Homo sapiens: one gene and its partners. The protein of the gene in region 1 purifies or fractionates together with the protein of each later gene. This does not show direct contact. Each region holds a gene or a part of one and is shown in the gene's direction. Other genes may lie near its edges.

What was found.
Region 2: the proteins of CHRM3 (region 1) and DYM purify together in Homo sapiens (affinity purification with mass spectrometry; 2 studies listed by BioGRID and IntAct, with this or other methods). This does not show direct contact.
Region 3: the proteins of CHRM3 (region 1) and PIGX purify together in Homo sapiens (affinity purification with mass spectrometry; 2 studies listed by BioGRID and IntAct, with this or other methods). This does not show direct contact.

The regions. Positions count from the first base shown.
Region 1 is NC_000001.11:239,389,512-239,393,165, forward strand, and holds part of CHRM3 (muscarinic acetylcholine receptor M3), read left to right. Parts: intron 1-3,654.
Region 2 is NC_000018.10:49,331,550-49,335,203, reverse strand, and holds part of DYM (dymeclin), read left to right. Parts: intron 1-1,350; coding exon 1,351-1,476; intron 1,477-3,197; coding exon 3,198-3,340; intron 3,341-3,654. UniProt on the Homo sapiens protein: Necessary for correct organization of Golgi apparatus. Involved in bone development.
Region 3 is NC_000003.12:196,729,230-196,732,883, forward strand, and holds part of PIGX (GPI alpha-1,4-mannosyltransferase I, stabilizing subunit isoform 2 precursor), read left to right. Parts: intron 1-1,762; coding exon 1,763-1,863; intron 1,864-3,654. UniProt on the Homo sapiens protein: Stabilizing subunit of the glycosylphosphatidylinositol-mannosyltransferase I complex which catalyzes the transfer of the first mannose, via an alpha-1,4 bond from a dolichol-phosphate-mannose (Dol-P-Man) to the glucosaminyl acyl phosphatidylinositol (GlcN-(acyl)PI) intermediate to generate alpha-D-Man-(1->4)-alpha-D-GlcN-(1->6)-(1-radyl,2-acyl-sn-glycero-3-phospho)-2-acyl-inositol and participates in the sixth step of the glycosylphosphatidylinositol-anchor biosynthesis.

The DNA.
Region 1 (3,654 bases):
TTAGAGTATGTAAAAATGTGAAGTTCTTTTAATGATATTTTAGCCTTTAATTGCAGGCAACCTGTTGAAAGAGGGCATGGAAAAAATGTGAAATTGGCAGACATAGAATTTCTTAGATTCACACTTGTAAATTGAATAGACAGAAAGTTAAACGATATGGTTAAAAGCAAAGTTGCCTTATGTATTTGTAAATTATAAAGTAATACATATTTTCAGATTTTTAGTTAAAATCTCTGTCATTTTCCCAGCCAACATATTGTTCTTGCCTAATAACTTTGTTAACATTGGCAAGCTCAGTTGCTTACTGCTAAATGGCCTGGACGATTCCAGTGTGACTATTAAGAAATTGGGTCTTGTTTGCAGTGCCGGGAAGTTTATACTGGGAACAGCTGTGGTGTAGTGGCACTTTAGATAGGAGATGAATGAACCGTGAATCATATGAAGATGGAGACTGATCAGTATGCAGAGAAGTGTATCTGTCCTTCACTTATGGAACCTGATTTTATATCATATGATGACTAATAGCATTATTCTCACAGTGTGATTTTGGAGGATCAGTGAGTAACTAGAGATGTTGTCTTTTATGTTTGTGAATTTAAAATGTATTCTCCTTACATAAGACTATTGTAAAAGGTATCTATGAGCTTAATAAAATTGTAATCAAATCCCTCTACCACGTTTACTTTTAAAAGTTAATCAGCATAATAAAATGTGCCTTTATGCTTAATTGTTTAATATAGTGTTTTCCTAGATGCAATATATTTTTCATCTATAAAGTTCAGCAAGTCCAGCAGAAGCCCTGTTCTGAAAAATTACTAGCCTTTCAGAACTTTGGAATAAAATTTCAACATCAATGGAAAGTTTTAATTTTATGAAGAGATAATCTAATGTATATGACAGGAGGCAAAATCAGTTAAATTAGAAGTTAGTTTCTGGTGTCTGAAAGGCCCTATCTTCTCCATTAGGGAATATATCTTTGTTCAGATCAAATGCTAAGCAGAGTATTTCTTCAAATCACTCATCACTGCATTGCTCCCTCTGCCCACCCTCCACGGAGAGGGTGTGCAGGTATGAAAGGCTTCCCTCACTTTTTTTTTTTTTTTTTGAGATGGAGTCTCACTCTGTCGCCCAGGTTAGAGTGCAGTGGCATGATCTTGACTCACTGCAACCTCCGCCTCCCAGGTTCAAGCAATTCTCTGCCTCATGAAAGGCTTCCCTTTTCATCAGTGAACTAGCACCTGGAGAGCTCTGTTAGCCTGCTACCTTCCCTAGCAGTTGCATGCCCCAGACAGTATAGATCTCCATTAGTGTTGTCTTCAATGCAAGAAATAAAAATAATTTTGGTCTGGGCACAGTGGCTCATGCCAGTAATGGCAGCAGTTTGGGAGGCCAAGGCAGGAGGATTACATGAGGCAAGGAAATCAAGATCAGCCTAGGCAACATAGCCAGACCCCATCTCTACAAAAAGTGTAAAAACTTAGCCAGGCATGGTGGCGTGCACCTGTATTCCTAGCTACTAAGGAAGATGCAGTGGGAAGATAGCTTGAATGCAGAAGTTCGAGACTGCAGTGAGTCAGGATCATGCCACTGCTCTCCAGCCTGTACGAGAGTCTGAGACTCTGTCTCTACATAATCATCATCATAATAGTAATTTTGGTTTGGTGAAGCAATTGAAAATATTAAACCATAATGTGGCTTATGTGATAACTGTGTGACCTCAAACATTTCATTCCCCACTGTACACTTGAAGACCATAGTAGTTGCCCTGTCCATACCATGGATTGGTTTTGAGAATCCAGTGCATGTGGATGTGCTTTTTGAACAAACTCTGAAATGCAGTGCTTGATTGGAACCCAGAGCCCCCTCAGTACACCATGATGGACAGCACTGAGCGCCAGTATGTAGTGGCCCTCTGGCTCAGTTTTTGGCCTCTGTGTGTTGTTTTCTATCCAGAAGTTTTGGCAGCTTGCAGATTCCCCAGCCTCTGGCAGGCTCTCTCTTTTAGGCTGGCGATCTGCATTCTCCCACCTGTTGGAACTTCCCGCTCATCCCCTCCTGAAGGCCAAGGACTCTGGCTGACGTGCACCTTCTTAGCTTCCTCTGCTGAGGCTGCAGCTGCAGCTTGCCACATTGACACAGACCTAGGGTCCAGTAGTGATGACAGGAAGTCAACAGAAGGAATATTCTGAGCCCCTGCCAGCTTCTCACCAATTGTGCCAGTTCATCCTGAAGCCATCCGGAATATGAACACTTTGAGAAAAACAATGGTGGCCAAAAATTAAAAACAAAAAACAAAAACCAATTTGATAAACAGTAGCTGGCAGATGCCTTGTGGGCTTTGAGACCTTGCCTTTCCAAGCCTGCTCTGCATGGGACTCAGGAGCCTGGCCCTTCTGATTCCACAACCAGTGCAGAGTCTGTCCTAACCCTAGTGAGCTCTAGCAATTCTCATGCCCCCCTCACCTCAGTTTCTCTAACTCCTGTCATATTTACCATTTCGTAGGACTAGGATTTTATTGAGTTTTCAATTTGCACTTTCAGTACTGGATTTAATGTCTGGCCTGGGAAAATTTTAGCTATGACCTTGGCAGTCAGCCTCGCCCTTGCCAAGAACTTCTCTCCAGGAGCAAGACCCCTTTCTTTCTATTCTGTCTCTGATTCAATCTCAGTGTGACAAACCCTTGGACCTAAGGCACAGCTCCTCTCCTGACAGTGCATCATTTCCGCCTGAGACTTGTAGTGCCCGGTTCCACTTGACAAATAAATTCTCCTTGTCTGTCATTGTTGGCAGGATCAAATCTCAGTTCTCCACACCTCTCCCAAGCAATGTAATTTGAGTGGCTGACTATCCACTACAGAATTAATCCTTCATTAGGTCATTTGTTCTAGCCCAGTCCTAGCCTGCTTCCTGTCCCCACTGTTCCCTTGAAATTTGGCATGCCAGCTGAGCCATGACATCGTCTACCTTCTGTCACCTCTAGCACAGGAAGTGGTGCTAATGTAGACATCCTGGTTCAGGCAGGATATCCGCCGACTACTGCTGTTCAGATAAAATTCAGGTGAGTTTAAACCAAGGTGAAATACTTTCAGCCTGTTTTGGAGAGAGTTCCCAGAGAGAGGGGCTACCAAGTGTGTACTTCCCTGCATTTATGGCTGTGAAGTGTTTTGGTGCTCTTCTACTGAAGCCTTCTAATTTACCATAGGTAGCTATGGCTATAGACATAGATACATATAAAAATATTCTGTCACTAAACTGTAGGAAAAAGGAGCTGCTAACAGCCTTTGTCTACATTTTTTAAGACTTGTCACTTTGGAGTACATTTTCTCCCACTAGAATTGCCCATGGGATCCAGACTGGAGGGAAACCTGGTTACTGCTAACTATTAATACATACAGGCCAATTCTTGCCCACAGCCATTTGACATTCCATCGAGCTAGCTCTCACTTCCATTGAAACCTAATCCAGTGGTATTTTGTAGACTCACAATCCATATAAATTTTGGCTGAGCATAGTGGCATACACCTGTAGTCCCAGGTACTCGGGAGGCTAAGGCAGGAAGATCACTTGAGGCCAGGAGTTCAAGGTTATAATGTACTATGATTGCACCTGTGAATAGCCACTGTACTCCAGCCTAGACAACATAGCAAGACCCC
Region 2 (3,654 bases), on another chromosome or scaffold:
ACGTAATAAGGCTAATTGCGTGGGTCTCTTGTGTTTTTCTTTTTTTATATGTCATTTTTAAATATATTTCTTTTTCTTTCTTTATTTTTTGTTTTTGAGATGGAGTTTCGCTCTTATCGCCAAGGCTGGAGTGCAATGGCACGATCTTGGCTCACTGCAACTTCCGCCTCCCAGGTTCAAGCCATTCTCCTGCCTCAGCCTCCCTAGTAGCTGGCATTACAGGTGCCCGCCACCATGCCCAGCTAATTTTTTGTATTTTTAGCAGAGATGGGGTTTTACCATGTTGGCCAGGCTGGTCTCAAACTCCTGACCTCAGGTGATCCACCCGCTTTGGCCTCCCAAAGTGCTGGGATTACAGGCGTGAGCCACTGAGCCTGGCCTTTTAAACATATTTCTATCAGTAATAACTCCTTAAGATATCTGGTAGAATTTAAATTTTTCTAGTTCTAGAATCAAGTCATCATTAATTTGTTTAATGAGCTTTCATTTAAGTAGGTGTTAAGTATTTTTCTTTGTTTTTCATAATTATTTCATTTTTATAAAAATATTTTAGTATTCTTTTGGTGCTATTGCTCTTTTTACTGCGTTGTTGAGGTTTCTACTTCCTTGGTCTTAACATGTTCCCCATTATAATCCTGTTTAAACTTTTGCAGTAACTGGAAATTTCTGGATGCCTTTATTCCTCTGTGTGCTTTCTGTTCAGCTGAATCTTTTTCTTTTTATTTGATCTAAGACTTGTTTCCCAAAGGGGTTTATGATCTTGAGAGGACAGAGTAACCCTTCATAATCAAAATATGCTTAATAAAACAGGAATAACTTGTTTACTGTTAATATTTTGCTGAACATGCAAAGTTGACCTTGAGAAAGGTAGGCACTAGAGACACAAGATCTAGGGTGTATTATTGTTCTGATTGTAAAGTGATCATCAACATGAAAAGGCATTGTTTTCTTCCCTACACTGTACCTTCTCTTCAGCTTTACAATCTGAGTATTTGTCTCTGTATTATCACTAAACAGAAATGAACATAGATGTCTAGAGTGAATCTTCAAAACAGAACACTGCTAGTAACTATTTCCATTATACATAAATAGACTTGTCATTTAATAGGAGATGGAAACTGGAAAATAGGGAAATAAAGGGATAACTAACCCAAATACACCAGCTAATGACAGGGAAGGAGTTTAATATTTTTGCTTGACTTAATTTTTGTATTAAACGTATTAACATTTTTCAGTAACCTGAAAATACTGAATATTTAGATTTGAGTTTTTAAATGTATAGTTCATTTAGAAAAGAATAGTGTCTTAATCTTCCAAAGTGACTGTTACTCTGTTTTTCTTCCATTTTAGAGATATTACATATGAAATATCAGTAGAAGCTATATCAACAATGGTTGTTTTCCTTTCCTGCCAACTCTTCCACAAAGAAGTTTTGCGACAGAGCATCAGCCACAAGTATTTGATGCGAGGTCCATGGTATGTTTCTACTTTAAGTATGTCTAGTTTTTTCATTGTATAAATCTATATTTCTAGTCTTGTCCTTTTACCTGAGTATCGTCCCATATCTCCAACCAGGTATTTCCTCTAGTTGTTCTATTGTCTCTTTAAACCCAGTGCATAGGGAACCGCATTCTACTTTCCTGTGCCATCTACCCATCCTCCCTGTTCTTCCTGTCCCGTAGCTTCATTACCTTCTCCAGTGGTTGCTTCGTAGAATTGAAACTTTGAAATCATCTTTTTCTTCCATCTCCTTCATTCTGTCTATGTTTAAGCAGTCAAGTCATATTTGTTATTCAGATTATTTTTGTATCTTCCTCTTCTCAGCAGTCCCTTTGAAACACCTGTGATCTATGCCCCCTTACTCTCTTTGGACTTCTCCAGCAGCCTCTTCGCTGACTATTCCTACTTCTTTGAGCCTGCAAATATTTGCTGTGTGCTATCCATGTGCCAGGCATGTTAGACTGTGGGGCTATGCTCTTGAGCAGAAGCTTACGATCTCCTAGAGGGTGTGGATGCAAATGACCAACACATATGCACATACCTGACCTTTTATTAACATAATCTTCACAAAACTTTAAAAATGTAAAACAAATCCAAATAAAGTACCTTTGAGGAAAGTTCTCAGATAGTGGGGAGCTTTGTCTTCTTCATATTCTTTTTGCTACCCTGATTATTCCTGTGGCATGTATGTTCTTTGAACATATTTGAAAATCACTGAGGGAAAGGATCTGGGCTTTGGAGTCAGAGGTTTGCATTGGAACCCTCTCTGACAGAGACACTCAGAATGACACTCAGAATGACCGTGGTTTGAAGTAGTGCTGGCATCGTGGGACTGTGTGCATCTTTGCTGAAACAAGATTGTGAACTTCATCCCTTATAGTGCCAGAGTATTCAAGTTGCTTTTTAAAAATAGACATAGAGGGTGTTAGTGTTCTTATTTTCTAAGTAAGGTTTTTATAGTATCATTATGGTGCCACATATTTAAACCGTAATATGTTCTTTACTTATTTTTGGGGTTCATCTTGGAAACCATATTTAAAAAGCTCAATAGTACATTAAAGAATCTGTTAAAAAGTTTACTCTATATTGCAGGAATTAGTTTAATACCAATTGAATAATTGAATAATTTCATACTTAAAAAGTGTAGTCCTATTGTTATTTTTAAATTCTTGCTTTTTTCTACTGATTCTTTATTACTACTTCCCTTCAATTGCCAGATAATGTGTTATGCACTAAATTTATAATAGCTCACAGTGTTATACCGAATGTAGATAAAGTAACTGGAGTTCAAGAGTTCAAGTGGGCTGGGCACGGTGGCTCACGCCTGTAATCTCAGCACTTTGGGAGGCTGAAGCGGGAGGATCGCTTGAGTTTAGGAGTTTGAGACCAGCCTGGGCAACATAGTGAGACCTTGTCTCTACCAGACCTTGTTTCTCCCCACTGCAGAAAAAAAGTATTTAAGTAATTTGATCAATATCTTATGATGTGATAAGAGGAAAAGCAAGGATTAAGCCTCAAAATTGCTCTCAAAGCCCATGGTCTTCACTGTTGTGTGCAGTGCTCAATTTCTGTGAGTTGTGCCAATAGCCCTTTTGTATTAACAGATAGTGTTAATGGCAGAATTATTTCTGTATTGTTATTCAGAATTAGATGACTCCCATAAATATGAGTTTGATTTTTTTTTCCTTTTTGTATAGTCTTCCATACACCAGCAAACTTGTGAAGACCTTATTATATAACTTTATCAGACAAGAAAAGCCACCTCCTCCAGGGGCCCATGTTTTCCCTCAGCAGTCGGATGGGGGAGGACTGCTTTATGGACTTGCATCAGGAGTAGCAAGTAAGTTTTATCAGATTTTTTCAATTCTTTGGTGCACATAAATTTTATCTATTTAGGCATAAGAAATTCTGTTTGCTTGGCTGCCACCATTAATAGTTACATTGAATTTGTGCAGCTGGTTCAATGTGAAAACAAAGTAATTAAAATATTAATCTTTCTGTTTTGTGCGGTGATTTATGTAAAATGTATGCAAATAATGAATGGATTACCTACAAAACATCGTTTTTCAGGAAGAATGTTTACACATAAATATGCGTATTGCATGAATTGTAGCTGTATAGTAAAAATAAAATTAAGCATTTGAAAACTTATAA
Region 3 (3,654 bases), on another chromosome or scaffold:
GGCGGAGGCAGGAGAATCATTTGAACCCAGGAGGCGGAGGTTGCAGTGAGCCAAGATTACACCACTGCACTCTAGCCTGGGTGACAGAGCGAGACTGCGTCTCAAAAAAAAAATAAAATAAAAAAAATAAAAAGCTTTTGCAGTTTGCAGTCTTCTCAAGATGTTTTCTTTCTTTCTTTCTTATTTTTTTTTTTTGAGGCGGAGTCTCGCTCTGTTGCCCAGGCTGGAGTGCAGTGGCGCAATCTCGGCTTACCGCAATCTCCGCCTCTCCTGCCTCAGCCTCCTGAGTAGCTGGGACTACAGGCTGCGCCACCATGCCTGGCTAATTTTTGTATTTTTAGTAGAGACGGAGTTTCACTATGTTGGCCAGACTAGTCTCGAACTCCTGACCTCGTGATCCACCCGCCTCGGCCTCCCAAAGTGCTGGGATTACAGGCGTGAGCCACAGCACCTGGCCAAGACATTTTCTTTAGTTTACGAAGCCCCTTTCAGTTTTTGGTTCTTTGTGTCTTCAAATTTGGGTTGATTTAGAATGTTTATAAAAGTTAGTAGCACTGGGGCCAGGTGCAGTGTATCACACCTGTAATCCCAGCACTTTGGGAGGCCGAGGCAGGCGGATCAGTTGAGGTCAGGAGTTCGAAACCAGCCTAGACAACATGGTGAAACCCTGTCTCTACTAAAAATATAAAAATTAGCCAGGTGTGGTGGTATGCACCTGCAATCCCAGCTACTTGGGAGGCTGAGGCACGGGAATCACTTGAACCTGGGAGGCGGAGGTTTCAGTGAGCTGAGATCGCGCCACTGCAGTCCAGCCTGGGAGACAGAGCAAGACTGTCTCAAAAAAAAAAAAAAAAGTTAGTAGCACTGTTACTAAAAACCGACAGATGGGAAGTTTTTAATACTACATTTGTTACCGTCATACCTTTCATGACGAGAAAATTAAAAATGTTCAATTATATTACCTTTGTTCATCCAACCTTGTTTTCTGTTTCTATTAAAGGTACCTCTTAGCATAAATAAAGTTTGAAAAAGTTCCTCTCCTGAGAGAACTGGATTCTGATATTCTGTCTTTTTATCTGAATGCTCTTTTATGGGTGTGTTTCATATGGAAATTTATCGAGTTTTGCACTTACGATATGTTCACTTTTCTGAGTGATGCTTCAAAAATAAGTTTACATTAAATTTTTAAGAGCAGCCCCAAATTTGAGTACAATGAGATTCATTAAGAAGTCATGTTTGGCCAGGCGTAGTGGCTCACGCCTGTAATCCCAACACTTTGGGAAACTGAGGTGGGTGGATCACGAGGTCAGGAGTTCAAGACCATCCTGGCCAAGATGGTGAAACCCGATCTCTACTAAAAATACAAAAATTAGCTGGGTGCAATGGCAGGCACCTGTAATCCCAGCTACTCTGGAGGCTGAGGCAGGAGAATCGCTTGAACCCAGGAGGTGGAGGTTGCAGTGAGCCGAGATTGCACCACAGCACTCCAGCCTGGGTGACAGAGTGAGACTCTGTCTCAAAAAAAAAAAAAAAAAAAAAAAAGAAGTCATGTTCAACTTTTGCAATACTTTTGTGATTTTCTAATTTCTTAGGCATTCACATAAAAAAGGATGCTAAAATAACAGAATGTGATAGATGGGTCCAGATCATATACATAATGTATTAAAATGTTTGACAACTTCTGTCTATTGAGGTTTAATACAAGCCTAGCTTTCAGTCCAAATACAGGTTTTCTGACATCATTTTCTACCACTTTTCTCAGAGTTCCCGATTTTGAAATGCTGGGCTCACTCAGAAGTGGCAGCCCCTTGTGCTTTGGAGAATGAGGATATCTGCCAATGGAACAAGATGAAGTATAAATCAGTAAGCTAATGTTTTATGTTGTTTTTTAGATCATGTGCCTCATTTAAAGCTCTTTCTGTAATGTTCCTGCCACATTTAAGAGATTAGCATTTTTTTTTTTTTTTAGGCGGAGTCTCGCTCTGTCACCCAGGCTGGAGTGCAGTGGCACAATCTCGGCTCACTGCAGCCTCCGCCTACCAGGTTCAAGTGATTCTCCTGCCTCAGCCTCCCAAGTAGCTGGGATTCTAGGTGCCCGCCACCACACCCAGCTAATTTTTGTAGTTTTGGTAGAGGCAGGGTTTCACCCTGTTGGCCAGGCTGGTCTCAAACTCCTGACTTTAGGTGATCCGCCTATCTTGGCCTCCCAGAGTGCTGGGATTACAGGCATGAGCCACCGTGCCCAGCTGGGATTAGCATTTTCTAATATAGAAAGCTGTTTTTTCTTACAGCAAAGGGTTACTACAAAGCACTGCTGTTTTTTGTTGGGGAACTTTCATTGAACATACAGTTGGGAAGATGGATGACTCTGCAATCTTATGCAGTGTAGAGTTGTTTTTGAGTAGGTTGCCATTGCCATATGGTACCTGAAAATTTTTCTCAAACTCTAAAATACATCTGGAGACCTGCATTTGATTGATTATGTCAATGAAGAGTATGCTTAGTGTTTATGATTTATTGATTTAGCAAATTAGTGTGTATTGCTACAAGATAAGTAGTGACCCTTTTAAAACATTTTGAATTCAGTTGTCCTTATTTATTTATTTATTTATTTTGAGACAGAGTCTCGCTCTGTTGCCCAGGCTGGAGTGCAGTGGTGCAATCTTGGCTCACTGCAACCTCCGCCTCCCTGTTCAATCAGTTCTCCTGTCTCAGCCTCCCGAGTAGCTGGGACTATAGGCGCCTGCCACCATGCCCGGCTAATTTTTGTATTTTTAGTAGAGACGGGGTTTCACCTTGTTGGTCAGGCTGGTCTCAAACTCCTGACTTCAGGTGATCCACCCCCGTCAGCCTCCCAAAGTGCTGGGATTACAGGCGTGAGCCACCACACCTGACTTCAGTTGCCTTTAAAATTCTGTAACTTGCCATAAGAGGTCATAATAATTTAACACTTTAAATATAGCTTTTAACTATATGTATATATTATTTATATATATATATATATATATATATATATATATATATATATTTTATTTTATTTTATTTTTTTTTTTATTTTATTTTTTTTTTTGAGACGGAGTCTCGCTCTGTTGCCCAGGCTGGAGTGCAGTGGCACGATCTCGGCTCACCACAACCTCCGCCTCCCGGGTTCAAGTCATTCTCCTGCCTCAGCCTCCTGAGTAGCTGGGACTATAGGCACGTGCCACCATGCCTGGATAATTTTTGTATTTTTAGTAGAGACAGGGTTTCACTGTGTTGGCCAGGCTGGTCTCAAACTCCTGACCTCATGATCCGCCTGCCTCAGCCTCCCAAAGTGCTGGGATTACAGGCATGAGCCACTGCACCCGGCCAACTTTATATATATTTCATCTTCATATATACCAGAAAAATAGGTGGCCATTACTAAGGTGGTATTCCATCCCAAGGATTGTTGAAGATGTCATTTTTTTGAATGACGGTTTTCAGATAGCACTTTGTTGCAGATTGGGTTGGTTACTTGTATTTTTTGGGGTGTGAAATCATAATTCAGGTATTTACAAAAAGAAAAAGTATTCCCAAGTTACGTACATTTTAATGTTTTTTAAAACTTATTTTTAAAGTATAAACTTTCCCAGTGTTTTTCATTGAACTTTATCTTCAAAACCAAATAGAAAA